Linked DNA regions of Homo sapiens: regions 1 and 3 are each linked to region 2. The links come from fine-mapping of genetic effects on gene expression. A gene starts in region 2. Each other region holds a variant in brackets. All regions are shown on one strand. Distances are between the middles of the regions. Region 1 overlaps CRTC1 (CREB regulated transcription coactivator 1). Region 2 holds the start of TMEM59L (transmembrane protein 59 like). Region 3 overlaps CRTC1 (CREB regulated transcription coactivator 1).

Region 1 (10,475 bases), 100 kb before region 2:
ACTCTGGTCTCTGCCTCCTTCATCACGTGGCCTTCTCGCTGTGTGCCTGTGTCTTCTCCTCTTTAAATAAGGACACCAGTCATGGGATTCGGGGCCAATCCTAAATCCAAGACGATCTCATCTCAAGGTCTTTCACTTCATCACACCCCCAAAGACCTTTTTTCCACATAAGGCCAGAGTCACACGTTCCAGGACTTAGGACATGGGCGCATATGTCTGGGGGATACTCTCCAATCCACTCCCCCAGCATCTCTGAAGCCAGCTGGGAGGCACCTGGCATGCCTGTGGCCTGCGTCCACACCCCAGGTCTCCTCTCCCCAGCCAAGGGGCCCCAGACAAGTTGATAACTGCTTGGCATGTTTTCTCGTCTCCCATTCAGGGCTGCAAGCTCCCCATGGCAGGATGGCAGCAAGGCTGGGATGAATCTCATCTGGAACTTAGTCAGCGGATGCATAGGTGTGGGGGTCTCTGGTGCATATCCCCAAAACCCACAGCCTCTGGTGACTCAGGGCAGACTCCGGCCTCTGCTGAGACCCCGGCTGCACGGTGACCTAGGTACTCCCATGTGCTGGATCATGGGGTGAAGTACGTCACAGCACCTCCTGGGCAGACCCAGAGGAGGCTGGGGGACCTCAGTAAGGGCCAGTGATGATGGACTTGGCAGAATGTCTGCTGTGGGTTGCCTGTGTCCCCTGGAAACACATAGCCATGTCCTAACCCCGCCATCTATGAATGTGACTGTATTTGGAGAGAGTCTTTGCAGGTCGAGGCCAGGTGCATGGCTCACGCCTATAATCCCAACACTTTGGGAGACTGAGGCAGGTGGATTGCTTGAGCTCAGGAGTTTGAAACCAGCCTGGGCAACATAGCAAGACCCCGTCTCTACTAAAAATACAAAAATTAGCTGGGCATGGTGGATCACGCCTGTAGTTCCAGCTACTCAGGAGGCTGAGGTGGGAGGATCGCTTGACCCCAGGAGGCAGAGGTTGAAGTGAGCTATGATTGTGCCTCTGCACTCCAGCCTGGGCGACAGAGCAAGACCTTGTTTAAAAAAAAAAAAAAAAAAAAAGGCCGGGTGTGGTGGCTCATGCCTGTAATCCCAGCACTTTGGGAGGCCAAGGTGGGTGGATCACAAGGTCAGGAAATCGAGACCATCCTGGCTAACACTGTGAAACCCCGTCTCTACCGAAAATACAAAAAATTAGCCGGGCATGGTGGCGGGCGCCTGAAGTCCCAGCTACTCGGGAGGCTGAGGCAGGAGAATGGCGTGAACCCAGGAGGCGGAGCTTGCAGTGAGCCGAGATCGCGCCACTGCCCTCCAGCCTGGACGACAGAGCGAGACTCCGTCTCAAAAAAAAAAAAAAAACAGAGGTTGAACTGGAGTAGGGTATGCCTTAAATCCAATGACTAGCATCCTCAGAAGATGAGAAGAGACACAGTGAGAGGAGGTGTCCACATGACAATGAAGGCAGAGACTGGAGTGATGCAAAGAGCGCCTAGAGCCACTGAAGCTGGAGGAGGCAGGAAGGATCCTCCCCTAGAGCCTCCTGCAGGCACCAGCCCTGCCGACACCTGCACTGAATACATTTCTATTGTTTTAAGATACCCAGTTTGTGGTCATTTGTTACAGCCACCAACAGGAAAGGAAGGACTAAGGCCCCACGCATGTGTGCAGGCAGTGTACTCGGGCAGAGAGGGCCCCATGCATGCGTGCACATAGTGTACATGAGCAGAGAGAAAGAGAGGGAATTCCAAAACTCAGCCGGGTGCAGCAGCTCACACCTGCAATCCCAGTACTTTGGGAGGTCAAGGTGGGTGGATCTCTTGAGGTCAGGAGTTCGAGATCAGCCTGGCCAACATGATGAAACCCCGTCTCTACTGAAAGTACCAAAGTTAGGCCGGGCGTGGTGGCTCACGCCTGTTATCCCAGCACTCTGGGAGGCCGAGGCGGGCGGATCACAAGGTCAGGAGATCAAGACCATCCTGACTAACATGGTGAAACCCCATCTCTGCTAAAAAAAAAAAAAAAAAAAAAACACTAAAAATTAGCCGGGCGTGGTGGCAGGCGACTGTAGTCCCAGTTACTCGGGAGGCTGAGGCAGGAGAATGGCGTGAACCCGGAAGGCGGAGCTTGCAGTGAGCCGAGATCATGCCACTGCACTCCAGCCTGGGTGACAGAGCGAGACTGTCTCAAAAAAAAGAAAAAGAAAGAAAGAAAGAAAATACAAAAGTTAGTCAGGTGTGGTGGCTCACATCTGTAATCCCAGCTACTCGGGAGGCTGAGGCAGGAGAATTGCTTGAACCAGGGAAGCAGAGGTTGCAGTGACACGAGATCGCGTCACTACACTTCAGCCTGGGAGACAGTGAGACTCCATCTCAAAAACAAAACAAAACAAAACAAAAAAACTCACTTTTTCTCCACCTTGACTCAAAACACATCTCTTGGTGCACACTTGTGTTCTGGAATGTGCAAGCACACGTCTATTTGTAGCTGGGGGAACAGATCCTTTGCAGTTTAATTTTAAATCTTATCACCAATTGAATAATGCAAACCACTGGCGGGGATGCTGGCCACTTGAAACAGGGTCTCCCTCCCCAAGAGCGGCCCCTGGGTCCCAGGCAAGAAGCCCGACGCCGACGCTGCCCACATGGACGGGCCTGGGGCCTTCCCGGAGCGGGCCTGTGCCCATCTTGAAAATGTCAGGCCTGGTTTCTGACAGGTGCCGGACCTAACCTCAGGGAAGTCAGATCCCAGACACGGCAGAGGAGGCCCAGCCCTGCTCGCCCCGGGTCAGCCGCCCGCAGGCCTCTGGGATTCTGAGCACCGCGGGGCGATCTGCCAGGAGCCACCTCCGGTCGAGGCGGAACAAATGATTTTTGAAAACGGCATCTGCCTGCTGACACAGGGCTTGCTTGGGGTCTGGGCTGAACCCGCCTCTCTGAGCAGCTCTTTCGACGCTGCCTCCCCCCAGGACGGCTAAGACAAAGGCGAGATGCCCTCATTACCATGGGCCCAAAATAGCTTTTATGCTCCATTTTTTAGACATAGCTTGACTATGGAGTTACATAACACCAAAAGTCATTTTGTGATTTGGAAGGCCAGATCCTGGGCCTGCCGGGGCCCACCTGGTACCCCTTGAGTGCCCTCACAGCCCTGTCCCAAAGGCTTCACCCAGGCCCCTGAACTCCTAGCCAGGCCCCAGGTGGCACCTGCTGCAGGCCCTGGGGACCCGGTGGGGTTAGCCCTTGCCTGTCTCACCATCTTCAGGCCGCATTCTGGGCTAGCGGGGCCAGGCACCACATTTGGAGTGCCCAGCAGACACACACGATGCAGGGAAGGACCAAGCCCAGAGGAGGGGTCACTAGTTGGAGGCTGCGCCCGCCAGGGTAGAAGAAGCAGGGACAGAGGCTGGAGGTGTCCCTTTCCTCTGCCTGCCTCATCACTCCCATGATCACTTCCCAGCAGCTCGACTTCCAGGGCCCATCGTCAGCCCCCTCCCTGGTACTAGCCCGTGTCATCTCGCACCCAGACACCCACGTGACCTCCTCCCAGGCCTCCCTGCTCCCTCTGCAAGTGGCTGCCGAGACTCCTTCATTTTCTTCTCTTTATTCATTCAGTTCAAATCGTGTTATGCTCCCGTTTTAAACACACCAGTAGGCTTCCATCCTATTTAAAATAAACCCCCAATCTGTATGGCGGTTCCTCAACAAGTGACATGCTGAGCTGCTGTTATGACCAAGCAATCCCACTCCTGGACGGATGCCCCCACGAAATGAAGACAATCATACATGAGTGTGTGTACCAGCACAATGGACAACAGCCAAAAGGTGGGAAAACCCACGTGTGTGCCAAGGGATGAATGAATAAGACTGGTCTGTCCATACAGTGGAATAAGATTCAGCCATGAAAAGGAATGAAGGCTGGGCACGGTGGCTCACACTTGTAATCCCAGCACTTTGGGAGGCGGAGGAGGGAAGATCCCTTGAGGCCAGGAGTTTGAGAGCAGCCTGGCCAATATGGTGAAACCCTGTTTCTAAAAAAAAAAAAAAAAAATTAGCCAGGCATGCATGGTGGTGCACACCAATAATTTCAGCTATTCGAGAGGCAGAGGTGGGAGGTTGGACAGAGCCCAAGAGGTGGAGGCTGCAGTGAGCTGTGATCGTACCACTGCACTCCAGCCTGGGTGACAGAGTGAGACCCTGTCTCAAGAGGAACAACAAAAAAGGAAGGAAGCACTGACCCATGCTACAATGTGGATGAAACTGAACATGTGATGCTGAGTGAGAGAAGCCAGGTACAGAAGGCCACAGGGTGTGAGATTCCATCGATCTGAAATGCTCAGAACAGGCAAATCCACAGAGACAGGAAGCAGATTAGTAACTGCCAGGGGCTGGGGAGGAGAGGAGGGGAGGGACTGCTAATGGGGACAAGGTCTCCTTTGGATGATGAGAATGTTCTGGAACTAGATAGCTGTGATGCCTGCACAATACTGTGAATGCGCCAAACGCCATGGAACTGTTCACTTTCAGATGGTGAATCTTATGTTATGTGGTGTTCACCTCAACAATAGATAAGTAAGATTCAAAGCCAGCCCCGTGACGGGGCTGCCCAGGCCCTGCTGTCTTTTTCTTCTCCCTCACTCCTGTCCCTACTGCCAGGTCCTCTTCCTGCTGTCAAAGGCCTTCTCCCCAGGGGCCCTCTGCTTGTACTGTTCCTGCCTCACACACGCACCCCCGTGTCTGGAAACCACTGCTGCCTTGACCAGGGCTGGCATGAGAAACCGTCCTGCGAGAGGCCCTCCCATGTCCCTGCGGCCCTGCTCTGCTCCCACCCGGCATTTGGCCCACCCCGGAACCCTGCACCCTCCTCTCTGAGCTGCATCCTCCAGCCCCGCCCATACTCACTGTAGGCTGAGACTGGAAGGCAGTGTTTGAGCCCAGGGGTCCTGCATCCAAGCTGGTGGCTGCACGCATCTGTGTCTGCCTCTCTGGGCCCCAGTGCCCCACACACAGGCAGAAACACAGGCTCCTGTGAGTGAGCACTACGACCCTTCTGAGGGGACAGTGTTTGGGGTGATCAGCTCCAGAGGGGAGGGACTGGCCCCTGAACAGTATGGGGTGGCAGCCCTGCTCCAGCTCAGCATCTATGGCAAGGGCTCCAGGGATGCCCTTGACCCCAAGGGCCACTACCCAGTGGTCATTACTGCACCAAGGACAGAGGCCACAAGGAGACAGACCCAGTCCTGGCTCCCACACAGCCTGAAGACCCTGGGAGAGGGTGCTAGGGGAAAGACTTCCCCTGGGCCCTCCACTCCCAAGCCCAGCAGCCCCCTCTCAGCCCCACCCTGGGAGTGCCACCATCACCCCTCACTCAAAGCTCCCCAAACTCATGTCTCCAGCCCAGCGCCAGTCACCCACCAGGGAGGCTGTACAGACATCACACGTGTTCACACACATGCACCCAGCCACATGTGTGCACACTCACAGCAATGCACATAGTCACATAAACACATTCATGCACGTGCATGCACATATGCTCACACGCACACACACATGCTCACACTCCTGTCCTGCCTGCACTCCTGTCCTGCCTGCACGCCAGCTCCCACTCACTTGCACACACACGAGCACATTCACAACTGCCCAAACCTGTCCCTTCCTTAGGAACCCCCCATGCCCCACCTGGCTCCCCCATGTCCCAGCACCTCTTCTGCCCTCTCGCCTCTTCTGTCCTCATTCTGGCCCAAGCCACATCTTCTCTTGCCTGGACAAATACAGAAGCCTCCTACTGGGGTCTCAAGTTAACCCTGCAGCGCCCAAACCACTCAGCTGGAGTCTCTCCAAACTTCCCACCTGAGCAGGTCACTCCAGCTCTACAGGAAAGACGACACAGCATGCTCTACTCGCTAGCCCCTATACTAGCCATGCCCTCTCCACACACTAATGCCCGCTGGGCTCTCCACACGCTAATGCTTGCTGGGCTGCACCTGGGCTAAGAGTCATGCAGGAGCCGGCCAGGCACAGTTGCTCACACCTGTAATCCCAGCACTTTGGGAGGCCAAGGTGGGTGGATCATGAGGTCAGGAGTTTGAGACCAGCCTGGCCAACATGGTGAAACCCCATCTCTACTAAAAATACAAAAATTAGCTGGGTGTGGTGGCAGACGCCTGTAATCCCAGCTACTTGGGAGGCTGAGGCAGAGAACTGCTTGAACCTGGGAGGTGGAGACTGCAGTGAGCTGAGATCGTGCCACTGCACTCCAGCCTGGGTGACAGAGCAAGATTGCGTCTCAAAAAAAAAAAAAGAGTCATTCGGGAGCCACATTCTGGCCCCACCTCCAATAATGACCCTCAGGCTGATGTCCCCACCCTAAGACCACAGCCCCCAACAAGGGTG[G/A]GCTGTGGCTGCTGCACTCACTACAGGGTCCCCAGGGCGGGGCACTGGGCAGGGCAGCGGGGGGCACATGCCACCAGTGACTCTGGGAATCCCGGAGGCATCCCTCCCCACCTGCAGCCCAGCAAGGGGACCATTCTCAGCATCCCCGCTCTTTGGCGACACCCCCCCCGCCAACCGCTGCCAGCACATAAGCGTACACCTGTCCCAGGCTTCGGGTGCAGGAATGCCGGGGACAGCTCCAAACAGCAGCCAACCACAAGCAGTGGCAGGAAGGAGCGTGGGCTGCAGCAAAGTCAACAGGGAAACAGGATGCAGCCCTGAGCAGGGTGGGTTCAGCCAGGTGGGCCCCTTGGCTGGGACAAACCTCCAAACAGGCCAACTCAGAGAGACCCCCTGCCTGGGAGCCCACCTGCACGTGCAAACAGCACTTGGTTCCAAGATGCAATCACACAAATGACGAAAGCAAAAGCATCATGATGTCCACACACTGAGAAGCAGGGGAAGAGGGGAGGACAGGCCCGTCCCCGGGGCCACAGGTGGCTGAGGGGAGGCTGCAGCTCCCTGCTGGGCATGGGGCCTGCACCACAGTACTTACTTTCTGTTGTGGGACGTACTCCCAGAAAAGTATGTCCAAGTCCTGACCCCTGGCACCTGGAATGGGAACTTACTTGGAAATAAGGTATTTGCAGCTGTAATTGAGTTAAAGTCATGTTGGAGTAGGGTGGGCCCTAATCCAATGGCAAGGGCCTTTAGAAGAGAAGAGAAGGGGTATTAGCCAGGCGTGGTGTCGTGCACCTGTAATCCCAGCTACTTGGGAGACTAAGGCAGGAGAATTGCTTGAACCTGGGAGGTGGAGGTTGCAGTGAGCCGAGATCGCACCACTGCACTCCAGCCTGGGTGGCAAAGCGAGTCTCTGTCTCAAATGAAAAAAAAGAGAGGAGAAGGGGAAAGAGATGCAGACACACAGGCCATGTGAAGACAGGCAGAGACTGGAGTGATGCGGCTACAAGCCAAGGAGCTCCGGGAGCCCCCAGAGGCAGGAGGGATCCGCCCCTAGAGGCTTCTACAGATAGTCAACCTTGCCCACACCTTGATCTTGGACTTCTGGCCTCCAGAGCTGGGAGAGTATACATTTCTGTTTCTTAAACCACCAGATTTTGTGGTCATTTGTAGTGGCAGCCCCAGGACAATAATAAAAACTGTGCTTGAAAGGTCCCTGAACAGGCACGGAAATCCTTCCCGAAGCCCAGGCTGGGAACTGCAGGCCCCAGAGCCCAGTGGGGGCAGGAGAGGCCCTCCAAAGGGCTGAGGGAGGGCAAGGGAGCATATAGGCCCAAATATTCAGGGTGCAGACAGCAGGATGTGGCCACAGGGTTGGAGGTTCCCCGGGGGTCATCAACATTTGGGGGTGAGAACGACACCTCAATCCCTAACCTGCCATGCTGAAATGAGAATGCTCTGGAGAGACCTTTCTGGGGATCACAGCACAAGCTGGCCAGTAGCCACATCTGACCAGTGGACGGGAAGCTGCCCTTGTCTGTTTAATGAGCATTAGTTTTAGGCCGAGTGTGGTGGCTCACACCTGTAATCCCAGCACTTTGGGAGGCCAAAGCAGGCGGATCACGAGGTCAGGAGTTCGAGACCAGCCTGGCCAACATGGTGAAACCCGCTCTCTACTAAAAATACAAAAATTAGCTGGGCGTGGTGGTGCACACCTGTAATCCCAGCTACTCAGGAGGCTGAGGCAGGAGAATTGCTTGAACCCAGGAGGCGGAGGTTGCAGTGAGCCAAGATCACACCACCGTACTCCAGCCTAGGTGACAGAGCAAGACTCCGTCTCAAAAAAAAAAAGAGTGTTAGTTTTGTTGCAAACCGAATAGCAGGTGGATGGAGTGCGCCCGCCTGGACCCACTGGGGAAGCTGCATCATGGCTGCATGTGTGCTGTGATGTCTTCCTGCAAATGGAGCTATTCTGATTCCTGATTTCTGGGGCACCCCAAACCCTAGCATGGGATACAGGGCTGTGGAGGGTGGCCTTGGGTGTGCATGGCTCACCCAGCCTCATGCATACGTGTAAGGACAGTATGGGCTTGTGTGGGGCCTGGTGTGCCCTCCCACCCTGCTGCTTCCGGGCACGCTAGGGTGCCAGGAGAGGTGAGCGTGGGCCGCCCACAGGAGGCATGTGGCTGCTATTTTTAGTGTAGGTTTCCACACTTGCAGGCCCTCCCAAAACAGCCCTACCCACCAGGCTGGGGAGCGGGCTGCCAGTGGTGCAGGGCTCACCCCAGCAGATACTGCAGGGCTGTGTCCTCCAGCTCCCACCTCTGCGTGGCCTTTTGGGATGTCAGCTCCTCCCCGCGCGTGCAGCTGGGTGTACAGAAAGGGGCTCTGTGCCTGGGCACGCCACTTCATATACTTGGGCCTTTGCTTCACGCGCAAGTGGAATATTCCAAATGGACCTGGGCAGGAATCCCAGCCAACACGAACCTGGACCTTGAGCTAAGGCCAACCGGCGGTGAGCCTGGCCTCTGCAGAGCCATACAGAAACACTACAGACCCCAACAACAGGCCCAGTAACATTGGAGGGAGGAGGGGCACGAGGAGGACGCCTAAGGGTGCAGGGCCTCAGCTCCCACAGAAGGGGCACAGCAGAGAACAAGGAAAAGGAGCTTAGAAAACTGGTCTACTCCGGGAAGACAGCCCGGCCACTACTCAAACAGTTAAACCCAGAGTCACTGCAGGATCCCGCAATTCCAGTCCTCAGTATAGATCCAAGAGAACTGAAGACAGTGTCCACACAAACCCTGCAACACACATGTCCATGCAGCTCTGTTCATAACAGCCAAAAGGTGGAAACAGGCCAAATGCCCATCAACAGACAAGTGGCTGAACAGAATGTGCTCCATCCATACAGCAGAATGTGCTTCAGCCAGATGTGCTCCATCCATACAGCAGAATGCTATTCAGCCATGGAAAGGAATGAGGCACTCATCCATGCTACGACGTGGAAGAAGCCTGAAGACACGATGCTGAGTGAGAGAGGCCAGACACAAAACGCCACATAGTGTGAGATTCCATTGATCTGAAATGTCCAGAACAGGCAAATCCATAGAGACAGGAAGCAGACTGCTGGCTGCCAGGGGCTGGGGAGGGGAACGGGGAGTAACTGCTGATGGGGATAGGGGGTGGGGTCTTTTTTTTTTTTTTTGAGACAGTCTTGCTCCGTCACCCAGCCTGGAGTGCAGTGGCACGATCTCGGCTCACTGTAGCCTCTACCTCCCGGGTTCAAGCCATTCTCCTGCCTCAGCCTCCCAGGTAGCTGGGATTACAGCCGTATGCCACCATGCCCAGCTAATTTTTGTATTTTTAGTAGAGACAGAGTTTTGCCATGTTGGCCAGGCTGGTCTCAAACTCCTGACCTCGAGCGATCTGCCCGCCTTGGCCTCCCAAAGCGTTGGGATTATAGGAATGGGCAACTGCACCCGGCTAAGGGGATTCTCTTTTTGGGAGGATGAAATGTTCTGGAGCCAGGCAGAGGTGTTCACTGTACAATATTGAGAAGGTACTAAATGCCACTAAATTGCACACTTTAACATGGCTAATTAGGGCTGGGTATGGTGGCTCATGCCTATAATCCCAGCACTTTGGGAGGCCACGGCAGGCGGATTACCTGAGGTCAGGAGTTCTAGACCAGCCTGGCCAACATGGTGAAACCCTATCTCTACTAAAAATACAAAAAAATTAGCTGGGTGTGGTGGTGGGCGCCTGTAATCTCACTACCAGGAAGGCTGAGGTGGGAGAATCACTTAAACCCGGGAGGTGGAGGCTACAGTGAACCAACATCATGCCACTGAACTCCAGCCTGGGCAACGGAGTGAGCTCCTGTCTCAAAAACAAACAAACAAACAAACGTCTAACTGGGCCAGGCACAGTGGCTCATGCTTCTAATTCCAGCACTTTGGGAGGCTGAGGCAGGAGGACGGCTTGAGCCCAGGAAGGAGTTTCAGACCAGCCTGGGCAATATAGTGAGACCCATCTCCACAAAAAAATTTTAAAAATTAGCTGGCCATGGTGGCACA
Region 2 (10,475 bases):
TGCCATTGCACTCCAGCCCAGGTGACAGAGCAAGACTCCATCTCAAAAAAAATATATATATATATATTATATATATATATATACACACACACACACACACACACACACACGTATATGTATATATATGTATATACATGAAAAAAGAAAAAAATGTCTGAGGTCCTGGCCTCCATGGGAGCAGGTGGCCAAATCCAGGACCAGCAAACAGCTCTCTCTGCCTTCACCCCCTCCCTCGGCCCAGCGCCATTCACAGATCCCACCCACCTGGAACTTGAGGTGCTGGCCAGGCGCGGTCACCAGGGTGGAGCAGCTCAGCCACAGCATCACCAGCACGGAGAGGAAGAGGCAGCAGGCCAGGATCCAGCGAGGCAGACCCGAGCGCCTGCCCCGCCCGGCAGGCACCACTCAGCTGCCCAGGCCGGGACCAGGGAGACCCGTACCTCCAGTCCCACCCCCCTCCCACCCCCAAGGTCCTGCCACCCACCGGGACATGCAACTGAGGAAGTCATTGTCCTGTGGCTCTTCAGACTCCACCTTGGCCTTGCTGCTGGTCTTGACTCGGATCTTGGCCTTCCTCACCTTGTCCAGGGGGCCTACAGGGTCTGAGAGATCAGCTGCCACTCAGCGACCACCAGGTCTTTGCTAAGAGGCCACAATAACCATGACCAGGAGGGAGGAGGTCAGGACCTGGGGCATAGAGTCCTGGAATGGAGATCAGAGCCCTGGGAGATGGACCACAGAATGCTGAGACAGGGACCATGGAACCCTGGGAGATGGATCCTAGGAGATGAACCATGCAACCCTGGGGGTGAACTGCAGAATCCTAGGAGATGAACCATGGAACCCTGAGAGATAGACCAAAGAACTCTAGGAGATGGACCCTAGGAGATGACCCTAGAAGATGAACCCATGGAACCCTGGGAGATGGATCCTAGGAGATGACCCTTAGGAGATGAACCCATGGAACCCTGGGAGATGGAACATGGAACCCTGGGAGATGGAACATGGAACCCTGGGAAATGGACCATGGAACCCTGGGAGATGGACTGCAGAACCCTGGGGGATGGGCCACAGAACCCTGGGAGATGAACTGCAGAATCCTAAGAGATGAACCATGGAACCCTGAGAGATGGACCAAAGAACCCTTGGAGATGGACCCTAGGAGATGACCCTAGGAGATGAACCCATGGAACTCTGAGAGATGAACCATGGAACCCTGGGAGATGGGCCACAGAACCCAGGGAGATGGGCCACAGAACCCTGGAAAGTGAACCATGGATCCCTGGGAGGTGGACCACAGAACGCTGGGAGGCGGAACACGGAACCCTGGGAGGTGGCCACGGAACCCGGGAGGTGGGCCACGGAACCCTGAGAGGTGGACCACGGATCCCTGGTAAATAGACCATGGAACCCGGGGAGATGGACCACGGAACCCTGGGAAGTAGACCACGGAACCCTGAGAAGTGGACCATGGAACCCTGGGAGGTGGACCATGGAACCCTGGGAAATAGACCATGGAGACCTGGGGGATGAGCCATGGAACCCAGGACTTGAGAGATGGAGATCCCGATCCTAGAAGGTCTGTTTGCCAGGCCGACTCCTTGTGGCAGTGGGGCCACCCATGGAAGGAACACTGGTCTAGGTTGCACCTTACCCACGTGCACCTCCAGGGCTTCAGGGTGGGAGCCTCGCCAGGTCACCTCCACGCGCTGCAGACGGCCCCCCTGGAAGCCGAGGCTCTCCACTATGGGCTGAGTCTGGGCCAGGAACAAGACAGCACAGAGAGGCTTGTGAGAACAGCACCCCTGGGCCCAGGCAGGCCCTCTGTGACTGCCATGTCCCACGCCCAGCTGATACCCAGTTCCCCTGGGTATCAGGGGTGGGCTTGATGTCAGGGATGTTGTTTTCTGCTTTCATGGGCTCCTCCATTTGCCTTAACCCCATCCTTTAGCTCCAGAAGTAGGAACATGATCCAGACCAAGCCAGTGAATTGCCTGAGAGATGGTCATATGATCCAGCCAGGGCCAATCAGAGTAAATCCCAGCTCAGTTAAAACCCCAGAGGGAGCCGGGGCAGTGGCTCATGCCTGTAATCCCAGCACTTTGGGAGGCCGAGGCAGGTGAAACACCTGAGGTCAGGAGTTCGAGACCAGCCTGGCCAACATGGCGAAACCCCGTCTCCACTAAAAATACAAAAATTAGGTGGGTGTGGTGGTGGCCGCCTGTAATCCCAGCTACTCAGGAGGCTGAAGCAGGAGAATCACTTGAACCTGGGAGGTGGAGGTTGCAGTGAGCTAAGATCATGCCATTGCACTCCATCTTGGGCAACAAGAATGGGAGTCCATCTCAAAACAACAACAACAACAACAAAAAAAAACCACAGCGTTTGTAACCTAGAGCCTCTGGCATCCACCTTACTGCCAAGAAGAAGTAAATGCCTGGGAATGAAGCCACCACAAAAGAAAGCAGAGTCAAGGCATGGAGTGAGACACTGAGCCCCTGGATCCAGCTGTGCCTGAAGCTCGCCCACTGTGGACTTTGCATCTCATGAGCTAAGAGCCAATGCATCCCATCTTCTTACCCTGCCCACCCATCTGCCACTCTGGCGTGGCCCCTGTCAGAGGTCTCACCTGAAACACCACCACTTTCCCATTGTCAGTCTGCAAGTAGTATGTCCAGGTGGAGGAGACAAATCCCTGGGCTGAGTTGACAAGGTCATTGCAGAGGGTGGAAAACAAGTCCAAGAGGGAGAGGGCCCCACTTGGAGCCTCCAGGACCTTTCTCTGGTGAAAAAAGGTCCAAGACACAAAGATGGCACCGAAATAGGGCATTAACCAATGAATGGGAGGGGGCAGGATGTGGTGGCTCACGCCTGTAATCCCAACACTTTGGAAGGCTGAGGCAGGCCGATCACTTGAGGCCAGAAGTTTGAGACCAGCCTGGACAACATCGTGAAACCCTGTCTCTACTAAAAATACAAAAATTAGCCAGGCATGATGGCGCACGCCTGGAATCTCAGCTACTCCAGAGGCTGAGGCAGGAGATTTGCTTGAACCCAGGAGGCAGAGGTTGCAGTGAGCCAAGATCACACCACTGAACTCTAGCCTGGGTGAAAGAGTGAGACTCCATCTCAAATAAATAAATGAATAAATAAACTAACAGGAGAGGAGCTAGGAGAATTCACTTGGATTGGATGTGGCTAAGTGATTTGGGCCAATAGGACTTCTTATAGTGAACACAGATCTCAGCGTGGCAGTTGGCTTCCTGTGTACCCTTAGGGAAGTGGATTGTGCTCTCTGAGCCCTAAAATGGGTATCGTTCTCTTCCTTCATGGAGTAGCCATGAAATTTCAACTAGAGGATGCCTGCCAGGTGCCTGGCACGGCACAGGCACTTAATGCGTAGTAGTCCCTATTACTAAAAATATCATCATCCTCATTATTCTTATTTTGACAGCGTCAAGACGGAGGTCTGATGGCCGGCCATGGTGGCTCATGCCTGTAATCCCAGCACTTTGGGAGGCCGACGTGGGAAGATCACTTGAGGTCAGGAGTTCAAGATCAGCCTGGCCAACATGATGAAACCCTGTCTCTCCTAAAAATACAAAAATTAGCCGATTGTAGTGGGGGGTGCCTGTAATCTCACCTACAAAGGAGGCTGAGGCAGGAGAACCACTTGAACCCGGGAGGCGGAGGCTGCAGTGAGCCAAGATTGTACCACTGCACTCCAGGCTAGGCAACAGAGCAAGACTTCATCTCAAAAAATAAATAAATAAATAAGAGGGAGCTCTGAATTGGAAGGGCTGACAGTGCAGTGAGCTTTTCTGAACAGCAGTGAAAGCTGGGAAGGGGTGGAGGAAAATGGGGGAAGTGGGGAAAGGGCTTTCTGGGGAGTCCCAGCCCCTAGGTCTCTGGCTATGCTACATGATTTTCTGTGCCTCAGTTTCCCCATGATGCAGCATTGCTTGGACTACAATAGATGAACCGTTATTATTTCTCCCATAAGGCAGTGTGTGCGTGCTTGCGAGGCAAGCCTGCTCTACCCTGAGCCGCAGTTCTGAGCCCCTCCAGGTGACAGTGACCACCAGCTCATCACAGGGGAAGGGCTTAGACCAGCACCTGGCAGCTCTGGGGGCGCCTAAGAGGAGTGAGGTGAGGAGTGGCCACAGCTCTGGTGGCTTCAAATCTCGCCCCTTGCACAGCCCTGTGTATGACCTGGGAGGTTGCCCCCTGGGCACTAAATGGGGGTGACATTGTCCTTTGTGCCTCCAAGTGACACAAAAACATTTGGGACAGGTTGAAGTCAGGCCCGAACCAGGACAGATGTTTGATAAATGATGGCTGTTTTCTGCCACTTATTCCTGAAAAGGTGGTGGGGCATGGGGGGCGTTGTTGCATGTAACTAAGGCTGGAGACATGACGGGGCTGGATGGAGGTTGCCCTGCAGGCCTGGTATAGAACGCAGAGTCTGGCAGAGCCTCTGCACGTGAATGAAGATTTCCCACGGGGTGAAGAGGGTGGGGGTATTGGGAAAAGGGACCCCAGGCCGCAGTGGGAGGCCCACCTTCTGCTCCGGCTCAGGCTCCGCGGGCTGGCTCCAGCAGCCGTGGCTACAGGCCTGCTGCTCTGCCTCCTTCACATAGGCTTCCACGCAGGCTGTGGGAGGTGGGAGCGGGTGACTGGGGACGGCCCTTCCCAGGCCACCTCTCCCCACGCTGGCCCACCCTGCCGGCGGGCCCTCACCTGCTTCACACTCAGTTTGGGTGGCATTGGGCTTGGAGCTTCTGGCCACAAATCGGCAGATGGAGAAGAGGCGGCAGCCACGCTCGCAAGCGCTGATCAGAACGGCTCTGTCATAGGGAGACTCGGAGGCGCCCTCCAGCCCCGCCTGGGGGAGGGGAGGACAGGGGGCTCAGGCCATGGGGAGGGGCAGGAGGAGGGTGGGGGGACCGGAGCATTCAGCAGAGGCAGGGAAAGGCTTCCCCGCTCCCCACGACATCTAGCCAGATGGAGATGAAGTTGGGAGAGGCTACAAATATTAGTGGGGGCTCTTAGCTCTGAGGAGGGAGATGGGGAGGGAGCTTGAGAAGAGAAATGGACAGTGAAGGTGGAGAGAAATGAGCCTTCCCCCCACTAGGTTCCAGGGAGGAGGGGAGACATGGAGAAGGATTCTCAGACCTGGAGGAGGAGGGGGAGGCTCAGAGGAGGGGGTTTTGGTCACACGCAGATCAGGCTTGAATCCTGGGGAGTGGTGGTATGAGTAGGGGCTGGTAGCTCTGAGTGGGGAGGGAACACGATGTGGAGGAGGAGGAATGAGGTGGGGGGACCATCAGGCCTGAGGGAGCTGGGGGTTGGGTGCTAGAGGGTCCTTACCCAGCAGAGTGCGGAAGGAGCCCGGGAGGTGGTATCGGCCCCTTATCGCAAGGACCTGCATCCCCAAGCACTCCCCCATCAGAGGGAACCCCAGCCCGTCAACTACTGGAGAGATCTCCCCATTCCCGACCCCCACCTCCCCACGGACACCCCCACCAAAGTCTCCTGCTGTCATCCAAGAGAAGCCCATCCCAACGCCTCCTCCTTCGGAGAGATCCCGCGTCCCCCGCTGGCACCTGGCACCGCACGCGCCTCACCTGCGAGGGCTGCGGGCCGAGGTCGCGGTCGCGGCACCGCAGCTGGCAGTTCTGCGTGTCCCCGAGCTGGGGGGCGAAGGGATCGCGGGCGGACGGCGCGGAGGCGGCGGGCGGCGACGCCAACAGCAGCAGCAGCAGCAGCGGCGGTGGCATCAGCGCCACCGCAGCCATGGCCGGGCGGAACGCGGGGGGCGCGGGGGACTCCAGCTCAGGCCGGGCACGGAGGATGCAGCGGCTGCGGCGGGGACCGGGGCGCTGACGTCACCCGAGCGAGGCAGCCTGGGAAGCGGGGGGTGGGAGATGCGGAGAGCGGGCGGGGTAGCTGCGCTGCGGCACCCGAGGCGTGCGGGTCGGGCGGGGCAGGTGCATCGCGGCCCCCACCGTCTATCCCATCGCGGGGGTCCCAGGACACCTCCCTGGTGCCCACGGGCGGGGGATCTCTGCTGGCGCTTGGGGCCAAAAGGAAATATATAGGGGGATGGGATGGAGGGGACTATTCCCCAGGGGTGTCGAGGAGAGCGGAGAGCTTGGCGGAGGAGGCGACGTGTGAGCCGACCACGCGGGAGAGAGGAGAAAGGGGTGTCCAGGCTACAAGGATCAGCGAGGATCCTGAGAGAAAGAGCTTGTTGCAGGAGGAGGGAGGGCGATGGGGCTGGAGTCCAACCAGGGAACGGAGAGGGAGGAAGGTGAGAGCCGCAGGACCCGGCAGCTGAGTCCTGGCATCTTCTCTTTTGACACCCAGGTTAGAAAGGAGACAACTTGCGCGCAGTTTGCCTCCTCCGGGAAGCCCTCTGAGCCCCTCCCTTGCTCCTTCAGCCTCGCCTCCCTCTGGCCCAGCCCTGATCCACTGACCTAGGGAATCTGGCCCTGTCTCCCCAAGGCTGGAGACCCCTGGGCTGGGGCTTAGTGGGAGGGGACACAGAGGTATGCTCAGGAGCAAGGGGAGGGGGTGATGCTGACATGTCTAATTCTCATGGGAAAACGGGGCAAATAGCGACACTTCTGACTTCCATAACCATCACACCCCAGGGCGATGGACTGTAGCCCCAGGAGCCGAATCTCGGTTAGAGGGTACCCCCAGCTTCCTCTCCGCCAGATAAGGGAGTGGGGACGCCCCTCTAAACCCGGATCCTCTGCAAAGATGCCCCCGCTTTCGCTGGCATGCCTGGCGCAGGTGCCTGCAGCGCCGCGCAGCAGCCCGCAGGTCCCCCACCTACGCTCCGCCCCCGCAGACGGGGCGGCAGCCTCGCAGGGTCTGCGGGTTAGAGGGCGGCTCAGGTTTCGGCCTGGGAAGAGGGTGTCCCGGGTGGGGGCCCGGCGCACCCCCTACTCTGGCCTGCGGCCGCGCTTTCATCTCAGCGGCCCCCGGCCGGCCCCCACGTGGCTTAATCAGGCGCGGCTGTGCCTGGCGGACCCCGAACATCTGGATCCCGGTGCGGCCCCTCCCCCGCCCCGCCCCGCCCCTCCCCTCCCCTCCCATGCTAGGCCGCTGCGACCCGGCGGCGAGGGCCTCCAGCCCGCAGTTTGCGCCAGAATCCAGCAGGAGAATTCCGCTTCTAACCCACCCGCGCGCCAGGCCCGCACCTTGGGAAACAGCCCTGTGCGTTATGACCAATACTGTCCCCCATTTCACAGGTGGGAAACTTAGGCTCCGGGACGCGTTGGCAAAGTCAGGATTCAAGCCCACACATGCTAATTCCAGAGGCCCGCGCGCGCCTAACCCCTCCACAATTACTGTCTTTCATTCATTCCAACGAAACACTTTTTCTTGCAACAACCGTATAAGACAGGTACCGGTAGCGTTGCCCTTTTATATGGGTGAGGAAACTGATGCTCAGACTGCAAAGTGGTTCTGTCCAGGTGACAGGGAGAGAAGCAAAGAAAAGCCGGCAGAGCCCTGCCAATGATGGGAGGTGACCTTTGGGCATTGCTTAAAACGCATCAGGGAGGAGGGACACCCCGCGCCCTTTTGCAGAAGGAGAAACTGAGGCTGGAGGAGTGGGTCGATCACCCAGGTCGCCTGAGGGGAGAAGGGAAAGAGGCTGATTGCCGCACACCCAGCCCCCTTTCCGCTGCACTAGGCCGCTGGGGGGGTGAGCGGAAAGAGGACTTGACCCCGGCCCCCAAGGTGAGCCCCCGCGCCCCTCCTGCTGTTCCCGGGGGAGCCGGTCCAGGTGAGGGGCGGGAGGGCCGGCGGGCGGCCAGGGTCGGGTTTCAGGAAATCCGCCGACATTCCTTCGGGGCTTAAGAGGGAAAGTTGACTCGGCGCCGCCCTCGCCCCCCCCCCCACTTCCTACCCCCCGGGGCGGCCTGGCTGGGGGCGGCAGGCGGGGGGCGCTGAGGCCGGCCTGGGCGTGAATCAGCGGCAGGCCAGGCGTCCGGGAAGCCACAGCAGCCGAGGTCAAGGCGGGCAGCGGACAAGCACCCTTTGTCCCTTGCCGCCCTCACCACGACCCTGCTGACCCCCACCTCCAAGCAGGGTACAGGCCAGGGAGGAGGCAGAGCACCATGGCGCCGGTGGTGGTTGCTGAGGGTTGTTGGGGGAGGACGGAGGGATGTGGCTGTCCCCCTAAAGCAGCTGGTGCCTCCTGGGACCCAGACTTCAGAGGCTTCTCAGGGTACAGACGGGCAGGGAAACTGGCCTCCCTGGGGCAGGCCTGCAACTTCCCAGGCAGGTCCCCTAGGCAGGTCTGCAACTCCCCAGGTCCCGCCTCCAGTGCCTGAAGTCCAGTGTGCATTACACTGAGCACCCAGGCATTGCTTCTCCCCAGGCTCAGCCTCCAGGGCAGAAATTATAAAGCCTAGGTACACACGGGCCCCACTTTCCTGTGCCACAGACCCTGAACCAGGTGTCCAGACCCTCACTGCCCCTTAATTCCTGAAAGCACCTGCCTGGAACACCAGGTAGCTAATCCCATACTGGGGAGCCCTGAGCACGGGGCTTTCAGAATGGGAGAGACAGCTCTCAGCCTTCCTCACTCCCAGTGGTTGTGGGTCCCCACAGGACCCTGAAGGTGCCATTTCCACTGCCCCCTCCCTGGTGCACCCTCAGTGCCCTGGAATCACGAGGGAGCTGGGGATGGAGGCCCCCCCCCCAACCTAATACCTCTCATCCAGAGGTGACCTTGGAGTGGAGGGTGCAGGACTAAGGAGGGGTCCCTCCCCCAGCCCAAGGGGAGGCCCTCCCTCTGCCCAAGGGGAGGCCCTCCCTCCTTCTGCCCCTTACACATTCCCAGCCAACTTCAAGGACTTGGGTCAATATTTGCCAGAAGTTCCATTGACGCTAGCTCCCTTTTGTCCTCAAGGAGATAATGGAACTGGGGAGTAAAGGGTTAAACTTCTGGGGGCCCTAAGGGCCGGGAAGGATGCACTCTGGGGTCAATTCCCTTTCCCTGAAGTCAAAGGTGTGGGGTAAAGATCACCCAAGGGCAGAAGTCACACTCCAGGGTGGGGCTGGGCAGGATTGGAAAATGGTCCTTCCCTTCTGTTGGTAAGAACAAGAGAGGGATGTCTACTGGCTAGGGTCACACAGCAAGACACAGAGTGTGGGCCAGGCTAGGACCCCAGGCAGCATGACTTGCTAGGACTGAGTTTTCTTGCTACTTGGAGGGAGTAAGAGTTCTCCATCCTTTACTTTTACAAATATTTAGTGAGTGCTTCGCTTTCAGCCCTCACTGGGCCCACCACTGGGGTCCAAAGGGGCTGAGGCTGCCCACAGTCTAAAGAAAATCAGTTGCACAAGAAATGAAATGGTTGGAAGAGTTGTGTTTCAAAAACAATAAAACAAAGTGAAGGAGAGGGAGAGTGCTGGGGGAAGGGTGGAGGGCCTCTCTGAGGAGGTGGCACTAATCCTGTGAAGTGATGGAAGAGAAAGGGCCAACTGGGGAAGATGTGGGGAACAGCATTCCAGCAGAGGGAACAGCCAACACGCAGAGGCCCTTCTATAGTAACAAGCCTGGTATGTTTTGGGAAACAGGGCTCCAGTGGCTGGGGCGGAATGAGGGAGAGGAGGGGGAAGAGGAGAGGGAAGAAGAGGAGGGGAGAGGATGGCGAGAGGGTGGCAGGACAAAGATCTGCTTTTTCTTCTTTTAAAAGCTCCCTCTGCCTGGTGTGCCGAGAAAGGCAGAAGGGTTATCAGGGAGGCCCTGGAGGAGGCCGGGAAGCATCCCTGAGGGAGACCGTGGGGCCTGGATCTGAATGGGGTGGGAAAAAGGGGTCAGCATCTCAGAATGGAGATGTGTTTTAGAATCAGAGCCAACAGGATTTGCTGATGAATTGGACATGAGGGATGAGCAAAGGAGAGAGTTGTCACGTGCGCTTCCAGGTCTCTGGCCTGAGCACCTGGATGGATGGGAGAGCCCTTTCCCAAAACCAAAATGACTGGAAGAGAAGCAGAAATGGAGGGAGGAAAAAATCAAGGTTTTGCTCCAGAAGCCTGAAGTCCTCCCAGGAGGGAGTGAGGCGTCTCTATCCACACAGAGAGCATCTGCAGACAGGAGCCATGGGGGAGTAGTGGTGAGTATCCTAAAAACTCAATTCCAGCCAAGGACTGCCACCTCCACTTAACCCTCTGGGTCCCCTGGCAGGTGGGACTATGGCTCCATGTTTCAGAGGGGACAAGCAGGGCTGGGGGTCACCTCTGCTCCAGGATATCCTCCAGTGCTGTGCTAAGGGCTTGGATTGTAGAGACTTCTGCTGCCCTGCGTCTTCCCACAGAAGCTCCTAGACTGGGTGGTGCCCACTGTGCAGAGGAAGAAACTGAGGCACAAAAGGCCTGGTTTCCCGAAGTAAATGGCAGCGTCTCTCCTTGTCTGTCTTCTCCATCCAGAATTCAGATGGAGCAGGGGC
Region 3 (10,475 bases), 92 kb before region 2:
GTGGCGGGTGCCTGTAATCCCAGCTACTGGGGAGGCTGAGGCAGGAGAATCACTTGAACCCAGGAGGCGGAGGTTGCAGTGAGCCGAGATCAAGCCATTGCACTCCAGCTTGGGTGAAAGAGTGAGACTCTGTCTCAAAAAATAAATAAATAATAAATAAAAAATAAATGTAAAAAATAAACAGTCAAGGGTGCCTGAGAGTGTGACCCTCGCTACCCTCTGACCCAAAGCCCCCATGGGAGGGAACAGCTCAACACAGCCAGGAGCCCGGCCGGCCGCCGACTCACACTGGCTCCTGGCTCCCACCCCCTCCAGCAGCCCCAGAAAACCCTGCATGTCCAGCTCACCCAGAGGGATGGTCCCTTTCAAGAAGGATCTGCTGGCCAGACACTGCCCCCAGGCAGTAGGACGGGAGGCCAGGGAGGGACGTCGAGGAACGGGGAGTCCACAGCAGGGGAAGCCACAAGTCCTTGCTGGCCCAGGACAAGCTGTGCTGGCTCAGATGGGCATGGGCCGGGCAGCTGGGTGGGTAGATGGAGGAAGGAAGTGGGAGACTTCCGAGTGAGTGGGGCTGTGCAGAAAACAAGCTGGAAATGGGGTGGGGGGAAGGTGGCCAAGGAGGTGACGCTGGAGCTGGGAAGAGCACTCCAGGCAGGAGGCCCCGTGAGCACAAAGGCCCTGGGGTCACAGAGTGACCATGACAGTGGCTCGCCAAGGAAGCCAGGGTGGGCAAAGAAGTGTGGGGGGGCGGGTGCTGGGCTCAGAGCCTCAAGAGAGCTGAGCTTTGTGGGACCCCATCCTGGGTGGGACGAGAAGCCGCTGGAAGGATTTAACCAGGAGTGACCTGAGCTGTCCTCCCTGTGGCAAAGTCACCGCTGCTGGAGGAGGCAGGACTGATGGGCCAGGGCAGGGCAGGCAACATGGGAGCAGCAGCCCATCCACGGCAGGGAACGCCAGGCAGCTGTCCCCGGCCTCAGCCCTCGGAGCCCTCAGGTCCTAACTTTAGGGCTCCTGATCCTGGCTGCGTTCCAGGCTGGGGTCCCAGCATGAGGAAGCCCGCCCAGGGCAGACGGGACCCATCTCCCCCAGGTGGAGTCCTAGGTGCACTGCCGGCTTCCCAGAGGACCTCAGCAGGGGTGTCCGCAGGTACAGAGGCTCATCCCAACTCCCATCCATGGCCTTGCTCAGACACAGCCCCCAGCCACCCTCAGATGCCCTCTCTGCTCCCTCTCAGCCCCATGCAGATACTGCCCTTCTTAACCTGCCCGCTCCCTCCTTCCTGTCTAGGCCCCATTTTGGGCCTGGAGGCTTCTCCCTCTGAAGCTGTCCTGGCTCCTGCCACCTGGCCTGTCCCCTGCACCAGGAGCCACACCCCCCTGCTGCAGCCCTTCTCCCACTGCCTGAGGGTTACGTGTGGGGGCAAGGTGGGCATAAAAAGGCACCATGAGGGGACATCAGGACAGAGGATGAGGGGCCAGGTGAGGGGAAAGGTGGTCCCTGTGTGAGGGAGGCTGCGGGCACCAGGCTGGGAGGCCCTGTCCCCTTGGCTACCACCTCCTCATGTGCACCCTGCCAACACCAAGCCTCTGCAGCTGCTCTGCCCACTGCCAGGTGCACCTGCGACTCTGGGCTCCACAAGGCCCCTCCCATGCCATGCCTGGCACCTGCTGCTCCAGAAACAGCCCTGGGACCCTGCACCTCCGAGCACCATGCGGGCTCAGAGGAGGTACCGGGTGGACATTTACCCACTGCACCCATGAGGCCTTCCCCTCAGCCTTCCTCCCGGGCCTAGAGACAGCACCCCACGGAGGACAGGACAGCAGGGAGCGGCAGGGAGGAGTCACCAGGGTGGCCACACGGCTGCCTGAACTGAGCACAGCTCTGGGCTTGCCACGGCGTGGGCAGGGTGGCTGAGTAGGGGCAGGAAACCAGGGTCCTCCTGCTTCTGGGCACCGCTCAGCTGGGAGCAGGGCCAGTGCCCACGGAAGATACCACAGGGTCCCGAACGGCGGTGGGAAGGGAAGGGCCAGGCCGGCCCCACAGGAGCCCTGACCTCGGTCCCCACGCTCCGTCTGCCTCTCAAACTTGGCTCCCCGAGGACTTGGCCTCTGTGTTTCTCACGTCACTCCTTACTGTCAGCTAACTCCCAAGTGCCGCCCCAGCCCTGCTTCCAGAACATTCCCTGTGATGCCCCAGGAGACTCCTCCAGCCCAGCAGCCCCTCACCAGGCTCGTCATGGTCCCGATTCCCCCAGCCAACGTGCCCAATTCACCTGGCCCTGGCAGACAGTGCCATGATCTTCCTGATGCTGATACAGAAGCCAGAAACCCGGGGTGGCCCCGTTCCTCTCTCGGGCACCCTGGGTTCACCTCTCCTCTGCAGTTCCTGAGCCCCTCCAGAACCCACAACTCCCTTCCCTGTTCTCCTCTCCAACCCCACCACCTTTTCTCTAGCCTTTCTTAAAGCTCAAAGCTGATCCTGGGTCACCCCTCCCCACCCCATAGCTGGCTGTGGGATCACGTCCAAGCTCTCCAGCTTGGCTCTTGGGCCTTTCCAGATCTGGGTCTCCTCTCTCCTTCCTCCTTCCCTGCCTCCTGTAGGCCTCTGGGCCCCATATATGCTGTTTCTCCTCCACCCAAAGAGCCTTCCCTTCCCTACCCACCTCTTGCACCGGCAACTCGGACCTCACCCCTAATGTCCCACTGCAGAGCTCTCCTCCTCCAGGCAGCCCTCCCAGGAGACATGGCTGCCTTCATGGAGCACTACCTGTGCAAGCTACAGTCCTGAGGACTGTTCATGCATTGACAGAGTTAGCCCCCTTCATGGCACATCTTACAGATGGGGAAACTGAGGCAGGGGCCAATTATGGGCTTGCCCAGGGTCACATAGCTGGGAGGAGGAGAGTGTGACTTCTTTTTGTTGTTGTTGTTTTAAATAGAGACAGGATCTGACTACGTTGCTCTGCCTGGTCTTGAACTCCTGGGCTCAAGTGATCCTCCTGCCTTGGCCTCCCAAAGTGGTGGGATTACAGGCGTGAACCACTGTGCCCGGCCACAACTTAATATTTCAGAGGTGGCAATACTACCCAAAACAGTCTAGATTCAATGCAATCCCTACCAAAATACCATTTCCTGAAGAAATAGAAAAAAATCCACCCTAAAATCCATATGGGATCTCAAGGAATCTGAAATAGACAAGACAATCTTGAAAAATAACAAAATTGGAGGACTCACACTTTGTTATTTCAAAACTTAACTACAAAGCTACAGTAATCAAAACAGTGTGGTACTGACATAAAGACAAACATCAAGACCAATGGAATAGAATAAAAGCCCAGAAATAAACCCTCACATATATGGTCAAGTGATTTTCAACAAGGGTGCCAAACCATTCAACGGGGAAGGGACAGTCTTTTCAACAAAACGGCTCTGGAAAAACAAGATCTCCATATGCAAAAGAATGAAGCTGTGCCCTGATCTAACACCATATACAAAAATTAACTCAAGACGGATCAAAGATCTAAAGCTAAAACTATAAAAGTAAAAAACTAAAACTGTAACTCTATAACTAAAACCATAAAAGCTAAAACTATATATACTAAAACTATAAAACTCTTGGAAGAAAACAGAGGAAAAGCTTCATACACTGGAGTTGGCAATAATTTCTTGGATC[G/T]GACACCAAAAGCACAGGCAACAAAAGAAAAAATACATAAATTGGATGCTGCCAAAATTAAAAACACTTGTGCATCAAAAGACGTAATCAACAGAGTGAAAAGGCCCCATTCCCACGGAATGAGAGAAAATATTTGCGAATCATATAGATGATAAGGGATCAATATGTAGACTATATAAAGAACTCTTACAACCCACCAACAAAAAGAAAAACAACCCAATTTAAAAATAGTCAAAATGTGAATGTACTAAAAAGCGCTAAAAAACAAGGGCAAAGGACTTGAATAAACATTTCTCCAAAGACAAATGGCCAATAAGCACATGAAAAGATGCTCAACAGCACTAATCATTAGGGAAATGCAAACCAAAACCACAATCCCTATCAAAATATCCTTTTTCGCAGAAATAGAAAAAAATCCACCCTAAAATCCATACAGAATCTCAAAAAACCTCAAATAGCCAAGACAATATTGAAAAAGAATAACAAAATTGGAAGACTCACACTTCTTGATCTCAAAACTTAACTACAAAGCTACAGTAATCAAAAGAGTGTGATACTGGCATAAAGAGAAACATAAAGACCAATGGGGCCAGATGTGGTGGCTCACGCCTATAATCCCAACACTTCGGGAGGCCAAGGCGGGGGGGATCATCTGAGGTCAAGAGTTCAAGACTAGCCTGGCCAACATGGTGAAACCCCATCTCTACTAAAAATACAAAAATTAGCTGAGTGTGGTGATGGGCACCTGTAATCCCAGCTACTCAAGAGGCTAAGGCAGGAGAATCGCTTTGAACCCGGGAGGAGGAGGTTGCAGTGAGCCAAGATTGCACCACTGCACTCCAGCCTGAGAGACAGAGCAAGACTCTGTCTAAAAAAAAAAAAAAAAAAAAAAAAAAAAAAAAAAAAAAAAAGACCAATGGAATAGAATAGAAAGCCCAGAAATAAACTGTCACATATATGGTCAAGTGATTTTCAACAAGGGTGCCAAACTACTCAATGGGAAAAGGATGGTCTTTTCAACAAATAGCTCTGGGAAAACAGGATCTCCAAGTGCAAAAAGAAAAACAACCCAATTTAAAATAGATAAAGTATGAATATACTAAAAAGCATTAAAAAAAAAAAAAAAGAGAGAGAGAGAGGAAAAGGAAAAGGGCACAGGACTTGAATAAACATTTCTCCAAAGACAGACAAATGGCCAAGAAGCACATGAAAAGATGCTCAACATCACTAATCATTAGGGAAATGCAAACCAAAACCACAATCCCTATCAAAATATCATTTTTTGCAAAAAAAAAATATTAGGATTAGTAAATATTAGTAGACATTAGGATGGCTATTATCAAAAAATCAGAAAATAACAAGTGTTATTGAGGATATGGAGAAACTGAAATCCTTATACACTGTTGGTAGGAACATAAAATGGTATAGCCACTACAGAGAACAGTGTGGCAGTTCCTCAAAAAATTAAACATGCTGGCTGGGCGTGGTGGTTCACGCCTGTAATCCCAGCACTTTGGGAGGCCAAGGCAGGTGGATCATCTGAGGTCAGGAGTTCGAGACCAGCCTGGCGAACATGGTGAAACCCCCATCTCCATTAAAAACACAAAGATTAGCCAGGTGTGGTGGCATGCGCCTGTAATTCCAGCTACTCGGGAGGCTGAGGCAGAACCGCTTGAACCCAGGAGGCAGAGGATGTGGTGAGCCGAGATCACGCCACTGCACTCCAGCATGGGTGGTAGAGCAAAACTCTGTCTCAAAAAAAATTAAACATACAATTACACATGATCCAGCAATCCCATGTCTGGGAATATACCCAAAAAAATTATGAGTAGGGACTCAAAGAGATGTACACCAATGTTCACAGCAGCACTACGCACAATAGCCAAATGGTGAAACCAGCCAAATGTCCATCAACAGATGAACGGATAAACAAAATGTGTCCCATCCATACAGTGGAATAACAGCCTTAGAGGGGAAGGACGTTCTGACACGTTACAACGTGGACGAACCTTGAGGACATTATGCTCAGTGAAATAAGCCAGACACAAAATGATAAATCCTGGATGATTCTCCTTACATGAGGTCCCTGGAGTCGTCAAACTCATAGAGGTGGAAAATAGGATGGTGGTTGCCAGGGGCTGGGAGGGAATGGAGGGTAGTAGGAGGGTGGGGGTTGGGGATTGGGGGGTAGGGGGTGGGTGGGTGAGTGTTTAATGGGGACAGAGTTTCTGTGCGGGAAGATGCAAAAGCTCTGAACACAGATGGTGGTGATGATTGCAAAACAATGTGAGGATACTTACTAAATGCCACTGAACTGCACACTTAAGGTTAAGACAGTAACTTACACGTTATGTGTATTTGTTTTGTTTTTGGTTTGTTTTTGAGACAGGGTCTTGTTCTGTTGCCCAGGCTGCAGTGCAGTGGTGCGATCATGGCTCACTGCAACCTCTGCCTCCAGGGTTCAAGCGATTCTCCTGCCTCAGCATCCCGAGTAGCTGGGATTACAGGCGCCTGCCACCACACCCAGCTAATTTTTGTATTTTTAATAGAGACGGGGTTTCAACATGTTGACTAGACTGGTCTCGAACTCCTCACCTCAGGTGATCCACCTGCTTCAGTCTCCCAAAGTGCTGGGCTTACAGACAAGAGCTACCGCATCTGGCCACATGTTATGTGTATTTTACTAACTTTAAAAAAAAGAAAAAGGCTGGGCATGGTGACTCACGCCTGTAATCCTAGCACTTTGGGAGACCAAGGAGGGTGGATCACTTGAGCCTGGGCAACATGGCAAGACCCCCGTCTCTACAAAAGAATTTTAAAACAAAGCCAGGCATGATGGTGTAGTCCCAGCTACTTGAAAGGCTGAGGTGGAAAGATTGCTTGAGCCCAGGAATTCCTGGCTGCAGTGAGCACTGCACTCCAACCTGGGCAACACAGGCAGATCCCTATTTTAAATATAAAAAAAGAAAAAATATAAAAAGAAAACGAGCACTTCACTTCTGTGGGATCCCCACCAAAATCCCACAACCTCAGTCCAATTGCCAGAAAACCTCCACAAGACCACAATAAGGACATTCCACAAAACACCTGACCAGCTCTCCTCAAGAGAGTGAAGGTCACGGATGATGAGGAGACATTGAGGAACCATCACAGATTGGAGGAATCAAAGGAGATGCTTTGACTAAATGCAACACGTTGCCAGGCGCAGTGGCTCTCGCCTGCAATCCCAGCATTTTGGGAGGCCAAGGCAGGCAGATAACTTGGGGTCAGGAGTTCGAGACCAGCCTGGCCAACATAGTGAAACCCCATCTCTACTAAAAATGCAAAAATTAGCCAGGCACGGTGGCTCAAACCTATAATCCTAGCACTTTGGGAGGCCAAGGCAAGCGAATCATCTGAGGTCAGCAGTTCAAGACCAGCCTGGTCAACACAGCGAAACACCATCTCTACTAAAAACGCAAAAATTAGCCGGGCATGGTGGTGCATGCCTATAATCTCAGCTACTTGGGAGGCTAAGACACCAGAATCGCTTGAACCTGGGAGGTGGAGGTTGCTTGCAGTGAGCTGAGATCGTGCCACTGCACTCCAGCCTAGGCGACAGAACAAGACTCTATCATAAATAAATAAATAAATAAATGCATAAATAAATACGTAAGTAAATAAATGCAACACACAACCCTGTCCAGAGAAGGTGCTTAAAGGAGCAATCCGGGGAAATCCAAACACAGTCTGGAGTCTAGTTAATAGAATTGTGACAACTGGGCCAGGAGCGGTGGCTCACGCCTGTAATCCCAGCACTTTGGGAGGCCAAGGTGGGCAGATCACGAGGTCAGGAGATTGAGACCATCCTGGCTAACACAGTGAAACCCCGTCTCTATCCTGACCGAGACCGTCCTGGCTAACAAGGTGAAACCCCATCTCTACTAAAAATACACACAAAAAAATTAGCCGGGCGTGGTGGCAGGCGCCTGTAGTCCCAGCTACTCGGGAGGCTGAGGCAGGAGAATGGCGTGAACCCAGGAGGTGGAGCTTACAGTGAGCCGAGTCTCAGCTATTCAGGAGGCTGAGGCAGGAGGACTGCCTGAGCCCAGGAAATTGAGGCAACAGAGCGAGAGCGAGACTCCATCTCAAAAAAAAAAGAACTGTGACAACTGGAGGTCCCAGCCCGGCCGTCGCAACCAGGTCACGTGTGATGTTCACAATGTGGGAAACAGGTGGGGGGTTATGGGTATTCCCTGCACTATCTCCAAAACTTTTCACAAAGTCTAAGAGACTATCTCCTGTGTAATCCCAGCACTTTGGGGGGCCGAGGCAGGTGGATCACCTGAGGTTGGGAATTCGAGACCAGCCTGACCAACATGGAGAAACCCTGCCTCTACTAAAAATACAAAATTAGCCGGGTGTGGTGGCGCATACCTGAAATCCCAGCTACTCGGGAGGCTGAGGGCAGGAGAATCGCTTGAACCCGGGAGGTGGAGGTTGCGGTGAGGCAAGATTGTGCCATTGCACTCCAGCCTGAGCAACAAGAGCGAAAATCCATCTCAAAAAAAAAAAAAAAAAGACTATCCCCTAAGAAGCCAGGTATGGGGCTCAAGCCAGCACTTTGGGAGGCCCAGGCAGGAGGAGGATCACTTGAGCCCAGGAGTTTGAGACCAGCGTAGGCAACACAGGGAGACTCCTGTCTCTACAAAAAATATATACTAAAAATTAGCCAGCTGTGGTGGTACACACCTATGGTCTCAGCTACTCAGGCGGCTGAGGCAGGAGGACTGCCTGAGCCCAGGAAATTGAGGCTACAGTGAGCCAAGATCACACCACTGCAGTCCAGCCTGGGCAACAGAGCCAGACCTTGTCTCAAAAAAAAAAAAAAATGCTGGGCACAGTGGCTCACGCCTGTAATGCCAGCACTTTGGGAGGCTGAGGCGGGCAAATCACCTGAGGTCGGGAGTTCAAGACCAGCCTGACCAACATGGAGAAACCCCATCTCTATTAACAATACAAAATTAGCCGGGTGTGGTGGTACACGCCTATAATCCCAGCTACTCGGGAGGCTGAGACAGGAGAATTGCTTGAACCCGGGAGGAGGAGGTTGCGGTGAGCCGAGATTGCACCACTGTATTCCAGCCTGGGCAACAAGAGTGAAACTCCGTCTCAAAAAAAAAAAAAAAAAACAAAACGGTGGGCGCGGTGGCTCATGCCTATAATCCCAGCACTTTGGGAGGCCAAGGTGGGCGGATCATTTGAGATCAGGAGTTGGAGACCTGCCCGACCAACATGGTGAAACCCCGTCTCTACTAAAAATACAAAAAAAATAAAAAACATTAGCTGGGCCTGGTGACACACGCCTGTAATCCCAGCTACTCAGGAGGCTGAGGTAGGAGAATCGCTTGAACCCAGGAGGTGGACGTTGCAGTGAGCTGAGATGGCGCCATTGCACTCCAGCCTGGGTGACAGAGTGAGATTCTGTCTCAAAAAACAAAAAACAAAAATCCTATCTCATAAGAAACAGTTAACAGCAATGAATACTCCCTCAGGTGAAACTAAACAGATGACCCATAAGCCACACAGTGGCAGCTGTCATATTCTGGGCCAAGGCACAGAGGTGAACAAGGTGCGATCCTGCTCTCACTGTTGCCCCAAGTAGCAGCTCAACAGCTGGCCTCGGCCAAGCAGGCATCTTTCAAGGTGTGCACCCACCACGGGCCGGGCACGGGGCCAGACACTTTGCGTGGATGCATCATCTAATCCATGTGACGACTCCTCAAGGGGGCTCTGTGAGCACCCCCTTTTTACAGCCAGGAAACTGAGGCACAGAAGGGAGGGACTGTTTGGCAGGAGCCAACAGAGGCGCATAGAGCAGCGTGATGAGCCCCGGGCTCTGGGGGCGGGCCCGCGAGCAGGCAGCCTCCACCCCATGGTGGACCTTCAGGCTCCTCCTTCTGCCCCGGCTGAGCCGGCAGTGAAGGGATTAGCGGGCTCCTTGCCGAACAGAGGCCGAGGCCGCCTGGGCGCAAAGATAGGCTGTTGGGACCATAAATCATCCCCAGGGTCTGTGCATTTATTCTGTGATGATATAATGAGCCACTCCTGTCCTAATTACAGCCACCAATCTCGCCTGCCTGGGAGGACCGAAGGGATCCCCGCAGCGATGGAAGCGGGATGCGCACAGATGCGAAAGGACTCAATGGTGTAACGCAGCAGGGAGCCTCTGCTTTCAGTCACTTGAGAAAGAGACGCTGAAGCAGACAGAGAGCCCCTCCGAGGTTCCGAGGTTCTGCAGACCCCTGCAGCCCAGAAAGGTGGACAGCTCGCGTGTCTTTGCGGACACGCTCGGCCTCCCCGTGTCCCCAGCCAGAGGGACGGCCAGCCCACAGAGCCAGTCCCAGGCGCCCTGCTAGGCTGTGCTGATACTTCCTCCCAGAGATTTCCGGGCGAATGACCAGCTGGCATGCACCCACCCACCCTCTGCACCCAGGTGAGTGGTGCCAGATGCAGAGGAAACGGGAAGTGCTGTGGTGTTTCTGTTTTCAATTTTAATCAAAGTTTTGAAACATAAATGATTTCTTTATTTTCATTTTTTTTATTTAAAAAAAAAAAAGTGTGGCAGAGAGCTTCTCTGCAGCAAGAGCCCCGGCAGGAAAGGGAAGAGAAGGGCGGCCTGCAGAAGTTCTCAGGGAGGCTTCGCCCCCTTGCCGAGAGCCCCCAAGCACCGTGGTGGTCTCTGGGCTGTTGAAATACCAGAGTGGGGTATGTGGATAAGGGACAGGGTGGCTAGGATATGGGCACAGGGTATTAGCACCCGC

The links. PIP is the estimated chance that this variant, and not a neighbour inherited with it, causes the effect.
Region 1: its variant is the best candidate, but not a certain one, in a credible set for the expression of TMEM59L in cerebellar hemisphere (GTEx, PIP 0.52).
Region 3: its variant is the best candidate, but not a certain one, in a credible set for the expression of TMEM59L in cerebellum (GTEx, PIP 0.57).

What each region holds. Positions count from the first base shown.
Region 1 is chr19:18,712,087-18,722,561 of GRCh38, reverse strand. All of the region lies in intron 1 of CRTC1 (CREB regulated transcription coactivator 1), which reads right to left. Among named protein-coding and RNA genes, the nearest start is that of CRTC1, 34 kb to the right of the region's middle. The variant G/A (reference allele first, on the strand shown) is at 6,397.
Region 2 is chr19:18,608,282-18,618,756 of GRCh38, reverse strand. TMEM59L (transmembrane protein 59 like) reads right to left here and starts at 5,887. Exons shown (of 8, transcript NM_012109.3): 1 at 5,628-5,887; 2 at 4,741-4,885; 3 at 4,562-4,653; 4 at 2,630-2,782; 5 at 1,655-1,757; 6 at 485-602; 7 at 265-382. The coding sequence starts at 5,798. RefSeq lists an enhancer at 4,174-4,694.
Region 3 is chr19:18,700,291-18,710,765 of GRCh38, reverse strand. The region is part of intron 1 of CRTC1 (CREB regulated transcription coactivator 1); the gene reads right to left. Among named protein-coding and RNA genes, the nearest start is that of CRTC1, 22 kb to the right of the region's middle. RefSeq lists enhancers at 1-956, 9,460-9,509, 9,853-10,475. The variant G/T (reference allele first, on the strand shown) is at 3,673.